Linked DNA regions of Homo sapiens. The protein of the gene in region 1 interacts with the protein of each later gene in a biochemical or structural test. Each region holds a gene or a part of one and is shown in the gene's direction. Other genes may lie near its edges.

Region 1 (4,160 bases):
GATCCCATTTTGCTTGGACATGCTCTCAGGAAGATAAAAACCATGGAGAAACACTAGGCCATTGACAAATGATCTGAGACAACTTTAGAAAACAATGTAGGATGAATGGAAAGAGAAAGAAAGGAAAGAAAGAAGAAAAAGAAAGAAGGAAAGAAAGAAAGAGAAAGGAAGGAAGGAAAGAAGGAAGGAAAAGAAGGAAGGAAGGAAGGAATATAGTGTTATAAATACTGCACTCAACATTTTCCAAATTCTTGCCATTATTTTTCAAAAGTTTAATAGTTTGCAGAAATAGATACTCAAGCCAAAGTCTGTTTTAGAGAAACTTTCCATGGAAAGTCAGAATTTCTACCACTTCCTTTTCTATCCACATTTCCAGTGCAGAAGAAACTGAGAAACAGAGCTTTTTGAAGAGAGGACAGGGCCATAGCAACAAGGACCTTCTTGGGGGATTAATGGGAGGTCAGTAGAATTAATAACCCTCCTTGGATGAGTGCTACTGTTTTCACATGGCTTCAGATGCTATCAACCTCAAAGAAATGATCTCAACAGAGAAGCTTATTCTCTCCCAACTTCTACGGTAAAATCCAGGAGTATTTTCTCTGGGGATCTGCCCACAGGACAAAGTCCATAAAAGCAAGTCCTGTCTGGACCATGTGGTTATCTGAAGCATTAGCCATCACCAGCACAACAAACGGGGCAGGGCTTTCCAAGGTGGGGCTGGTCAGAAGGGAATCTTTGATAAGAGGCCCACAGGCAGGGAAAGCGAAATAGGGTTGATGAGACCAGGGGAGACCTAAAAAAAAGGCAGCTTTGTGTCTTCTAGCTCCAAATATACCTGCCTTTTAGCTCACACACTGTCCTGGAGTTCTCAGACCTTTAGGGGCCCTAACACAGTTCAGTTCATACAGGGGTTCAAAAGGGACAGTGGCCCATTTGGGAGACCTTTAGGATCAATGGGAATCAATTCCATTGTTTTGCCTCAGAGTAAAGTTTCTGGCTCGGGGACAATTATAAGTTGCAAAAAGGATAGAGGCATATCCCAAGTCTTCCTTCATTCCACAAATAATTACAAACAACCTACTGTGTGCCAGGCACTATTCTTAGCACTGGAAATACACTAGTGAAGAAGCAGATGAGGACCCTGTTTATTGTTTCTCTCCAAGAAATTCTCCAAGAATATTGTTTCTTGGAGAGAAATAATAAATAAACAAGACAATTTCTGAAAGCAATAAGTGCAATCAAGATAATTAAAGGATGCTAAAGTGTGACTTGTGGGGATTGGGAGAGAGATGCACAGACAATATTAAAGAGGAGGCATTCGAGCTTTGTTGTGAACACCGGAAGTAACATGCCGAGCGCCTGGGGGATGGAAACTCCTATAGCACCCCACAGGCTAACAGCAAGCAGGACAAGACAAAAAGGGCAGGTGGGACATGGTAGAGATGGACCCTACCCAGGAAACAGCTCCATCAGCATCTTAGCCTGCCCCACTCTAGCCACACATACCCACGTGTGCTCCTGAGTTCAGTGTGCCCACCTCACTCCCACACCCTCACATAGACTTGGCAAGAGTAAGGAGGGAACTCCATAGAGACATTTTACCTATCTCAGGGGAGCAGCCACAAAGAAGCAAGTCTTGTAAAAGGTCTTTTGCAAAGGAGAGTGAACCCAGCAATGAGAGATCCTTAACAGCTAGTGCCCATTAGGGGGCTAAACCTAAAGCCTGGGTGGTGATGGCTCAAACGCTAATGAGTCAGTGAATCCTTACCGACCCCCTGGCCTTTATAATCTGAGGCAACTTTGGCTGCAGCCCGGGAATGTGCAGGGCACTAGGGAATACAAGGCCTTCTTCCCTGGTTGTCTTGTAATAAAACAGCCATGGGGTTGTCCCTCCAGTCCGAGAGACTGTGATGAGGCCTACATAGCAGCGATGTGGTCAGGTAAAAATCAGGAACCCACTGAAATCTTGGGCAAGCCACCCTGCCTGCTTGTGCCTCGGTTCTCTCATATGTCATATATAGGAGGTGAGGACTCCAGCTCCACCTGCCCCAGGTGGGTGTGGTGATGATGAGGAAAGACAAGAGGCTTGCAAGGACCCTGAAGAGGTCGGAGCATCATACAGATTCCTTTATTAGCCCACATTCTGATGTTCCCTGGTGAGACTTGCCCCAAGCAATTGCTAGTAAATGGGGGTTAATTTCTTCTCCACCTCCCTACTGAACAAAAAAAGAAATGCCAGACTTACTAGGAGAATCGAGTTGCTTTGAGTTTCTTTTGTTTTGTTTTGTTTTGTTTTGTTTTAAGGCTCCCCTTACACACCCTCCTTTAAGCTTTGGGTTTTCTCTCTTATAGTTTGTTGACACATGCTAAAAATGTCTTTGGAGAGAACTTCTGCCTGATAAACACCCAATTCTAGACTGTGGGTGGATTTTCGAGCTGACGGTGGTCAATTCCTTTCATTAAGCAGTGATCTGATTTCTCCACATGGCCATTCTGCCTTCTTGGGGGCAGAGTAGATGGGCAGCAGTTCACCTTTTCAGAGAAAGAGGTCTTCTAGCCACCTGGGCTGCTACTGAATGGTTTTCTCCAGGACGCTCTACCTAATGATTATTTCTATAACATTAAGCATGGTAATAAGTAGCTTCCAATTCAATTCATCCTAAAGCCAAAGAAAATACAGCAACACACACACACACACACACACACACACACACACACACACACACACACCACTTTATGGCAATTCTTAACTGACATTCAATGACTTACTTCTTTTCTTAGAAAATTTCCACCACATTTCTATCCCCAAGCCAACATACAATGTGAAATGAAAGCCAGTGCGTGGAGTGCAGCTGCTAAAAATTTTCAGCACAGGGCTCTTTCTGACTCTGCTCATGAGATGGTATCAGCCACCCAATGACTGGCGTATCTTGGTCCTGTGTCTTTCTTCTTACGCTGTGTTAATGTGTTTACTTTCCATTTGGCAGAGAGACAAGAGAGACACCTCCAACTTCGACAAAGAGTTCACCAGACAGCCTGTGGAACTGACCCCCACTGATAAACTCTTCATCATGAACTTGGACCAAAATGAATTTGCTGGCTTCTCTTATACTAACCCAGAGTTTGTCATTAATGTGTAGGTGAATGCAAACTCCATCGTTGAGCCTGGGGTGTAAGACTTCAAGCCAAGCGTATGTATCAATTCTAGTCTTCCAGGATTCACGGTGCACATGCTGGCATTCAACATGTGGAAAGCTTGTCTTAGAGGGCTTTTCTTTGTATGTGTAGCTTGCTAGTTTGTTTTCTACATTTGAAAATGTTTAGTTTAGAATAAGCGCATTATCCAATTATAGAGGTACAATTTTCCAAACTTCCAGAAACTCATCAAATGAACAGACAATGTCAAAACTACTGTGTCTGATACCAAAATGCTTCAGTATTTGTAATTTTTCAAGTCAGAAGCTGATGTTCCTGGTAAAAGTTTTTACAGTTATTCTATAATATCTTCTTTGAATGCTAAGCATGAGCGATATTTTTAAAAATTGTGAGTAAGCTTTGCAGTTACTGTGAACTATTGTCTCTTGGAGGAAGTTTTTTGTTTAAGAATTGATATGATTAAACTGAATTAATATATGCAAGCTCTTGTTTATATGTCTTTTCTTAAATAGACTATGTTACAGAGGTTACAGACTGAAGATCCAGTTTGTAGCCATTAGATAAGCTTAATTTTACTCACATGGAATTTTACTTAATCAAAACCATTGTGAACATGACAAAATAAGATACTTTATATAAATTCCTGGACTTTTAGATTCCCTTGAAAAAAGAAACAAAAGACTAGCAGCTCTGAGCCTGTATTTCCACATGGAAATAATTCTACAGAACTGAGAAATGCTTCTCCTTTAAAAGCAGTGTATGTTCTCATTTTGCCACAGTCTCCACCACCCCCTATTGTCTTATACCCTCCATCCACTTCCCTGGCTGCTATAGCCACTTGAGGTTGAAACCTCTGTCATTCGTGAGTCACAGGTTTGAGGACCTTAATATTTTCTTGTGCCCCTAATCAGGGTATGTGTGCAGCCACCCACTCAATGTGATTCGTGTTTATTAAGCTATGTATCAAGCACAAGATATGTAAGATTTTATTCCAGCCATGACAA
Region 2 (7,307 bases), on another chromosome or scaffold:
CTGAAAGATCCTTCTGCTCATTTGCAGTCACTTCCTCCTAGCTCCTTTAAAAAAAAAAAAAAGATATAAACTATTTTAAGAATACAGAACAGCATGGAGAGCACTAGTACCAATCCCCAAACAGCTACCTCTCATCTTACCAAATCTTAACATGTTGCCTGACTTGCCCAGAACTTTTTCTTCCTTTTTAGTAAAGAAAACTCTACAATAGAACTTTGAAGCCCTCTGCTTCCATCTCCCAGGCCCGTAGCCTTCTCTGTCTTCAGGGGTAACCACTGTCCTGCTCTAGGGGTGTGTGGGTCTGCAGGGACGAGGTGCATGTTATTCTTCAATGCCTCCTTCTACATTTTGCTTTTCAGAAGAATCTCAGTGTTACGGATCTGTGGGTCACGAGGCTTCAGAGCAGCACTTCAAGGGCTCTTATTCATTACCCCGTAGCGTGAGTGTGGCACCATGGATGTATGTGATCTAGGCTATATTTGGGTCCACTTTTCAGGAGTGCTGTTTTTTTTCTTTCATGCCATCCTTTGGACAGCATCTAATTTCATTCAATTGTGTCCGTGAATTTGGCCTCCTTATGGTCTTTGTGCTTTAGAATATGTGGTTATTTCCCTTGTGGTCTAGTAATTATGTGTTTATCATTGTCCCACTTTGTAACATAATTGTGTTTAAGTTGGAGACGAATGGTTACGTTCCTCAAATTCTCTACCTGCCAAATTTGCATTTCTATTTGATTTTTTCTTGTTTGTTTGTTGTTGTTTTTGTTTTTGAGTAAGAGTTTCCTTCTCATCACCCAGGCTGGAATGCAGTGGCACAATCTCGGCTCACTGCAACCTCTGCCTCCTAGGTTTGAGTGATTCTCCTGCCTCAGCCTCCCAAGTAGCTGGGATTACAGGCATGCGCCACCATGCCCAGCTAATTTTTGTATTTTTAGTAGAGACAGGGTTTTGCCATGTTGGCCAGGCTGGTCTTGAACTCCTAACCTCAGGTGATCCGCTCACATCAGCCTCCCAAAGTGCTGGGATTGCAGGTGTGAGCCACCGCGACTGGCCTGATGTGTTTATTTCTGAGAGAGATCTGTTAGAGATATTTGCTGTTTGGGGCTGTGTCAGTTTGCTTATATATTTGTCAGTCTTTGTTTTATATATTTTGAAGTTCGGCACACAAAGGATTATGGCTGCTGAACTGTCTGTGGATTCTGACTCTCATTGGCTACATCTTCCTTTGTCCATTTGATGCATTTTGCTTTGATTTCTATCTTTTTGATGTTACACGATATCTTCGTTAGTATTTTCTAGCACATACGTGTATTTTCCGTTTCTTTATTTTCAGCCTTCAGTGTTCTCTTTTAACAGTTTATCTGATAGAGAGCCTTTCTTACACTTTTTACTTTTTAATTGTGATAAAATATACATAACATAAATTCACCATTTTAACCATTTGAAGTTATGCATTTCCGTGGCATTAAGGACACTTAGTACTGTGCAACCATCACCACCAACTTCTCCAAAACCATTTCATCTTGCAAAACGGGAACTTTATACCCGCGAAATAATAACTTTACACTTCCTTGAAATGTTTTTTTAATCTTACTACAAAAAATTTCACACATCTACAGAAGTAGAGAGAATAGATTAGTGAAGCCCCATGTCCCCAACAGTGGCTTCAAAAATAATCAACTCACAGGTGATCTTGTTGTATCAACACCTCTCCCGACTCTCCCCCAACCCAACCCACCCCTCTTTATTGGGAAATAAATCTGAAACATTATACTGCACCATCTGCAAATATTTCAACATGTAACTCTAAAAGATGGGGACTTTTTAACATAACCACAAACCATTGTCACACTTAAAACAATTAACAATGATTTTAAAATATGGTCCATGCATTGCAATTGGTTCTATTAAGAGATTAAATCTCTTAATCTAAAGGGTCTCTCTCCCTTCGTCTCTCCTCTTGTACTGTGCTGTTTGCCTTGTGAGGGTTTCTTCAGCCTGGATTTTGCTAATTGCATCCCTACGATGTCATCTAACACACCCTCCTGATGCTTCTTTGTAGATCTAAAAAGTTCGACCTGATTCAGGCTCAATAGTAACATTTGTTCTTTCTATTTTTCTTGATTTCTATTGTTATTTCATCAAGACTAATTCATTAAAGGTGTGTGCATAACGTCTGCTGCGTCCGTGACGTTCGCAGCGAGGGTCATTGCTTACTTTAAGTCATCAGCGGGTGTAGTAGAATGGTATTCTCTTTCTGTCCTTCTTCATTATTTTCTAGGCTAAGTCTGTAATGAGAAGATACCCTTGACAGAGAACATTTCATTGGAACTTGTTTTGTCTCTTTATTTCTAAAACCCAACGCAAGACCTTGTTGATTTAAAACAAGAAAATGTAACCCATTCACAGGTGCTGTGATTCCTGATGGGTTTGAAATTATTCCCAATGTTTTATTGTTTGGTTTTTATTTACCTTTCTTGTTTGTTCTATTTTCCCTTACTTTTTTCTTTTAAAGGATTTGCCTTTTTTTTTTTTTTTTTTTCTCAGTTACCCAGACTGGAGTGCAGTGGTGTAAGCATGGTTCACCGTAGCCTCAACCTCTTGGGCTCAAGCAATTCTCCCACCTCAGCCTCCCAAGTAGCCTGGACCATATCGCGTGCTACCATGCCTGGCGAATTCTTAGAAAATTTTTTTGTAGAGATGAGGGTCTGGGTCTCCAAATGTTGCCTAGGCTGGTCTCGAACTCCTGGGCTCAAGTGATCCTCCCACCTCGGCCTCCCAAAGTGCTGGGATTACAAGTTTGAGCCACCATGCCCAAAATAAAGATTTGTCATATTTTTTTTCAGGTATATACATGCTATTTTTATTCTTAAGGAGACTCTTGAATTGTTAGCATATATACTTAGATATTTTCTATCAAAATGCCCACTGACAAGCATCTATATTCCTCCCCAGATAGGATGGAACGGCAATGTGCTCCCTGGCCCCTCCCAACCCAGTCCTCTAGGCGTTTTGTTTCACAGCGTTAATATTCTTACCACTATTTTTTAAATCAACAGGTTATGACATCATAATTTTTACTTATTTCTTTGCCCAACTTTGTATCATCTGCTCTTGTATTTCTCATGGATTTCTTCATGTCTATTTCTGCAAGACATCTTTAAAACAGAGTTTAGGAGCCGGGAGCCATGGCTCACGCCAGTAATCCCAGCACTTTGGAAGGCAGAGGTGGATGGATCACTTGAAGCCAGGAGTTCAAGACCAGCCTGGTCAACATAGTGAAACCCTGTCTCTACTAAGAATACAAAAATTACCCAGGCGTGGTGGTACATGTGCCTGTAATCCCAGCTACTTGGGAGGCTGAGGCAGGAGAATTGCTTGAACCCGGGAGGCAGAGGTTGCAGTGAGCTGAGATCACGCCACTGCACTCCAGCCTGGGTGACAAAAGCAAAACTCTGTCTCAAAAAAAACTGAAAACATAAAAATAAATAAATAAATAAAACAGAGTTTAGGGTAGTAATGTGTCTGAGTCCTTGCTCTGAAGATGTCTGATTTGGGTTTTTTTTCTAGGTATAATCTCTTTCCCTCCTCTTCCTCCTCCTCCTCCTCTCCCTTCTCTCTCTCTCTGAGCCTGTAGTATTTTCCCTTTCGTGTTCTGTGGTATCCTCCTAATGTCCCTAGTTAACAGGACCTCATCCATCCATCCCTGGGGTGTTCAGTGGCCTCGCAATCCACGTCCCCGCCCAGATCCGCAGCCTTCCTCCTGTGACCTGAGTGTCTCCTCCTCGCTGTCCCTGTTCTGTCCCCTCCCGCCCTCACATGCAGGTGGATGTCAATGCGTGCACGCACCCAGGTTTTCTTGCCTGTTCCCACCTCTTTATCCTCCTTGGCTGGTTCCTCCGCTCCATTCTCTGGCTCAGGAATTTGCTCCCCAGGGTTTTTCATTCCGCTCTGTAGCAGAATGTGCTACTGTTGCTTTCCAGCATCAAACTTTTCACTCCCATGGCCTCTGTGTTCTTCTTCCTAATGGGTGCCCTTTCTGCCTGGCGCTCCTGGAGGCCGGGCCCCTCTCCCAAGTGTGAATCTGATGGAAGCAGGTCCTTCTCGCCGGGACCTCATGTGAGAAATGACATGTCCCACCTGTCTCAAGGGGCCGCTCTCTGACATCAGAGCTGCTGTAGAGCGGAGAGGGGCAGGGGTGAAGGGCCACGGTGGTGCAACCCACCACTTCCTCCAAGGAGGAGCTGAGAGGAACAGGAAGTGTCAGGACTTTACGACCCGCGCCTCCAGCTGAGGTTTCTAGACGTGACCCAGGGCAGACTGGTAGCAAAGCCCCCACGCCCAGCCAGGAGCACCGCCGAGGACTCCAGCACACCGAGGGTGAGTGTGCAGAGGCCCCGCTATGTCCACGGTGATTTTTGGAGGGAAGCACTCTCCTGCCCCAGCCTGGAGTGACCCTGGTGGCCCTGCTTATAGCCCCGGCCCAGGGGTGTCTGGCAGGAAGGGGTCTCCAGACCGTCTGCTCCAGGGTCCCCTTTGAGACCCGGCAAGGGGAAGTGCCTGCCACCAAGAGCAGAGCCACATGGTGTGCTGGGAGCGCTTGCGGCTGAGGATGGGGCCGGCATGGGAGGACAAGGGGCTGTGAGGCCGGCAAGGCCAGGAAGAGGCTGGGCCCACAAGCCCCTAGGGGGACGGCTGGGGGGTCCTGGTGCTCCGGGCTGGGCAGGAGGCAGGTTCCCGGGGCCTCCTCTGTGAACCTGCTGCGCCTGCCTGTGTTAGGCCCTCCTGTCTGCATGCTGCCCCGCCTGGCTACAGCGATTCCATCTCCAGATCGACTCGCAGTGTGTGGTGTGTGATATGGTGTGGTGTGGTTCGTGGTGTGTAGTGTCGTGTGTGTAGTGTGGCATGGTGTGCATGTATGGTGCACGTGTGTGGCATAGCGTAGTGTGGTGTGTGTGTGTGCATGTATGGTGTGCGAGTGTGCGCATGTGATGTGGGGAGTCTGTTGTATGTACATGTATGGTGCACATGTGTAATGTAGTGTGGTGTGGTGTGGCACATGCTCCATGCTCCTCTGGGACCCTCGAGCTTCCCTGCCTCCTCCGTGGGGACCCCTGGGTGACGTCTTGCTGTAGGGGAGCGGGCACCGCTGTGCGATTCTGGTCGAGTTGGTTCAGCTGGTGACCCTGGCCTCCCCACAACAGGCTCCTGGAGGCCATTCCCAAGGTCCTGGTGGGAGGGGGATTGAAGCCACGCCCCTGGGTCCCAGGCCCACCTGGCCCCCTTCCCCCAACACTGCACTCTTGGGGCCAGCCCTCCCCATGCATCCTCCACCCCTGGCACCACCCCTTGCACCACCGTCCCCACACCCAATCCCCCCTCCCCTGGATCTGGGAGCTGGGATTCTGCCCTGCTGTCCCTGTCCATCCGGGGCCCCTCTCCTCTGTCAGTTCCTGGGTGGGGAGAAGGAGGGGTGGCATGGCTGCAATGGGGAAGGGGGGGGATGGCCGGAGAGCTCAGCCTGGGAGCGAGCTGTGGGGGCATAGGGGACACTCGCTGTCACTCGCCTTCCCCGTGACGGTGGCGCAACGCCTGCGGGTTTGGGGGCTGAGGCCGGATTCTGGAGGCTTCACAGAAATGAGCTGCTAGAAGCTCTGGGCTGTCTGCCGTCACCCCAGCGTTTCACCATGAGTGAAGCCCAGCTCACTGCAGAATCCATGCCCAGCTCACTGCAGAATCCCCGGGGGCCAGCACTTTACCAAGAGTGGCCTCCAGACTCCACATTTTAGGAAGGAACTCCTTCCCCATCCAGCTCACAGCAGAATCCCCAGGGTCCCTGCCAGCCTGGCACCCAGCGTGCCCCTCAGTATTCTGGGGATGAGTGGGGGAGTCCCTCTGCTGGGAAGAGGTCCCTGGCTACGTCCCTGCAGGGCGGCGGCTGAGCCCATGCCTCGGCCCCAGGGCCAGTCCCCGCCGGGTGCCATCCTGAGCAGGGCCACAGAACAGATGTCCCACATGGCCAGGACCCCTGTGGCCACCTGACCCCGGGGGGGCTGTGGCCCTCGGTGAAGCAGGTGACCGGGCGGGCTGTGGGGTTTGTCAGCTCCGCAGCGTCACTGCCGCTCAGCGTATGAGTTTCCACTCCCAGCACTCAATGAACAGCTGAGCAACTGCAGGTGCCTCCGAGTGCTGGGAGAGGGGAATGCTCAGCTCCGAGTGCTGGGAGAGGGGACGCTCAGCTCCGAGTGCTGGGAGAGGGGACGCTTAGCCACCCAAGGGCCTTTGCCTCAAGGGAGTAAATAGGGGCATTTCCTGGTGGGCGTGGGCTGGGCTGGAGAAGCAGGGCCTCCTGGCAGGGGCTGGCATGAGATCCAAACACTGCCCAGGCAGCTGGACACTCCTGAGCCTGGAGCTTCTCACCTGAACCACAGGGTGGTAACCCCTGCCCCTCAGGCGGCATCGACGTGACCTGCCTAGTGCACAGTGAGCCTGAGGCAACACGGCCACCACCAGGAGACTCCCTGGGGAAGAGGCCCCCAGACAGCGAGGTGCCCATGAAGGAAGTTCTGCACAGGGGCCGCGGCCATCCAGGAGATGGGAGGGGCCCTATCTGCACCCTGTCTGGAAGGGGCATGGGGTGAGCAGGCTATTTGGTCCCCCGTGACTCAGTTTCCCCATCTGTGAAACAGGAGGGGTGGTCTGGCCAATTGTGCGCACTCCAGCTGTCTCTATAGTCAACCGTGTAACTTGAACTCACTTCCCCAGGGCTCCTGCCAGGCCCAGGTCTGTCCACTCTGGCCCAGGCCGGGCCCCACCAGGTACCAGGGCTGTGGGACATTTGCCTCTGTGGATGGGGCAGCGTGACGCCTGTGGCGATTCCATGGAACAGGTCCTGTGTGGGCCCCCCTTGCTGCACTCGTGTCCTGTGTCAGAGAACCGTGGTCCTGCCTGAGGCCATGTCACCGGAGGCTGGCTCCCGTTCCCGGAGGAGAATGCCAGCTGCCACAGGGGTCAGTGACACAGGCATTTGCCCAGCAGGTACAGGCCAGGTCGCTGGGAAGCCCCAACTCAAGGGGCTCTGCAGTGGGCGCCTAGCAATTATGGAGCTGTGGGTGATACCCACCCCAAGCCGGACCTGGTGCCAGCAATTATCCCTCCCATTCTGCTTGGCACAAACTGGCACTGACACGGGGCATTGATTAGGTGGTTGCATTTGTCGATTCCGAGCCCATGTGTGTGGAGCCCAGGCCCTGAGCAAGCACAGAGGGCCCTGGTGCTGTCCTGAGCTGAGGCCCCTGCCCACCCCGG

What was found. Proteins that work in one complex are often made in the same cells at the same time.
Region 2: of the proteins of PRKCB (region 1) and ITGB2, one has a biochemical effect on the other in vitro, tested with the Homo sapiens proteins (one study listed by BioGRID).

What each region holds. Positions count from the first base shown.
Region 1 is NC_000016.10:24,216,974-24,221,133, forward strand, and holds the end of PRKCB (protein kinase C beta type), read left to right. Parts: 3' UTR 1-2,987; coding exon of another isoform or gene 2,988-3,140; 3' UTR 3,141-3,638; downstream 3,639-4,160. UniProt on the Homo sapiens protein: Calcium-activated, phospholipid- and diacylglycerol (DAG)-dependent serine/threonine-protein kinase involved in various cellular processes such as regulation of the B-cell receptor (BCR) signalosome, oxidative stress-induced apoptosis, androgen receptor-dependent transcription regulation, insulin signaling and endothelial cells proliferation.
Region 2 is NC_000021.9:44,917,893-44,925,199, reverse strand, and holds the start of ITGB2 (integrin beta-2 isoform 1 precursor), read left to right. Parts: upstream 1-4,300; 5' UTR 4,301-4,379; intron 4,380-7,307.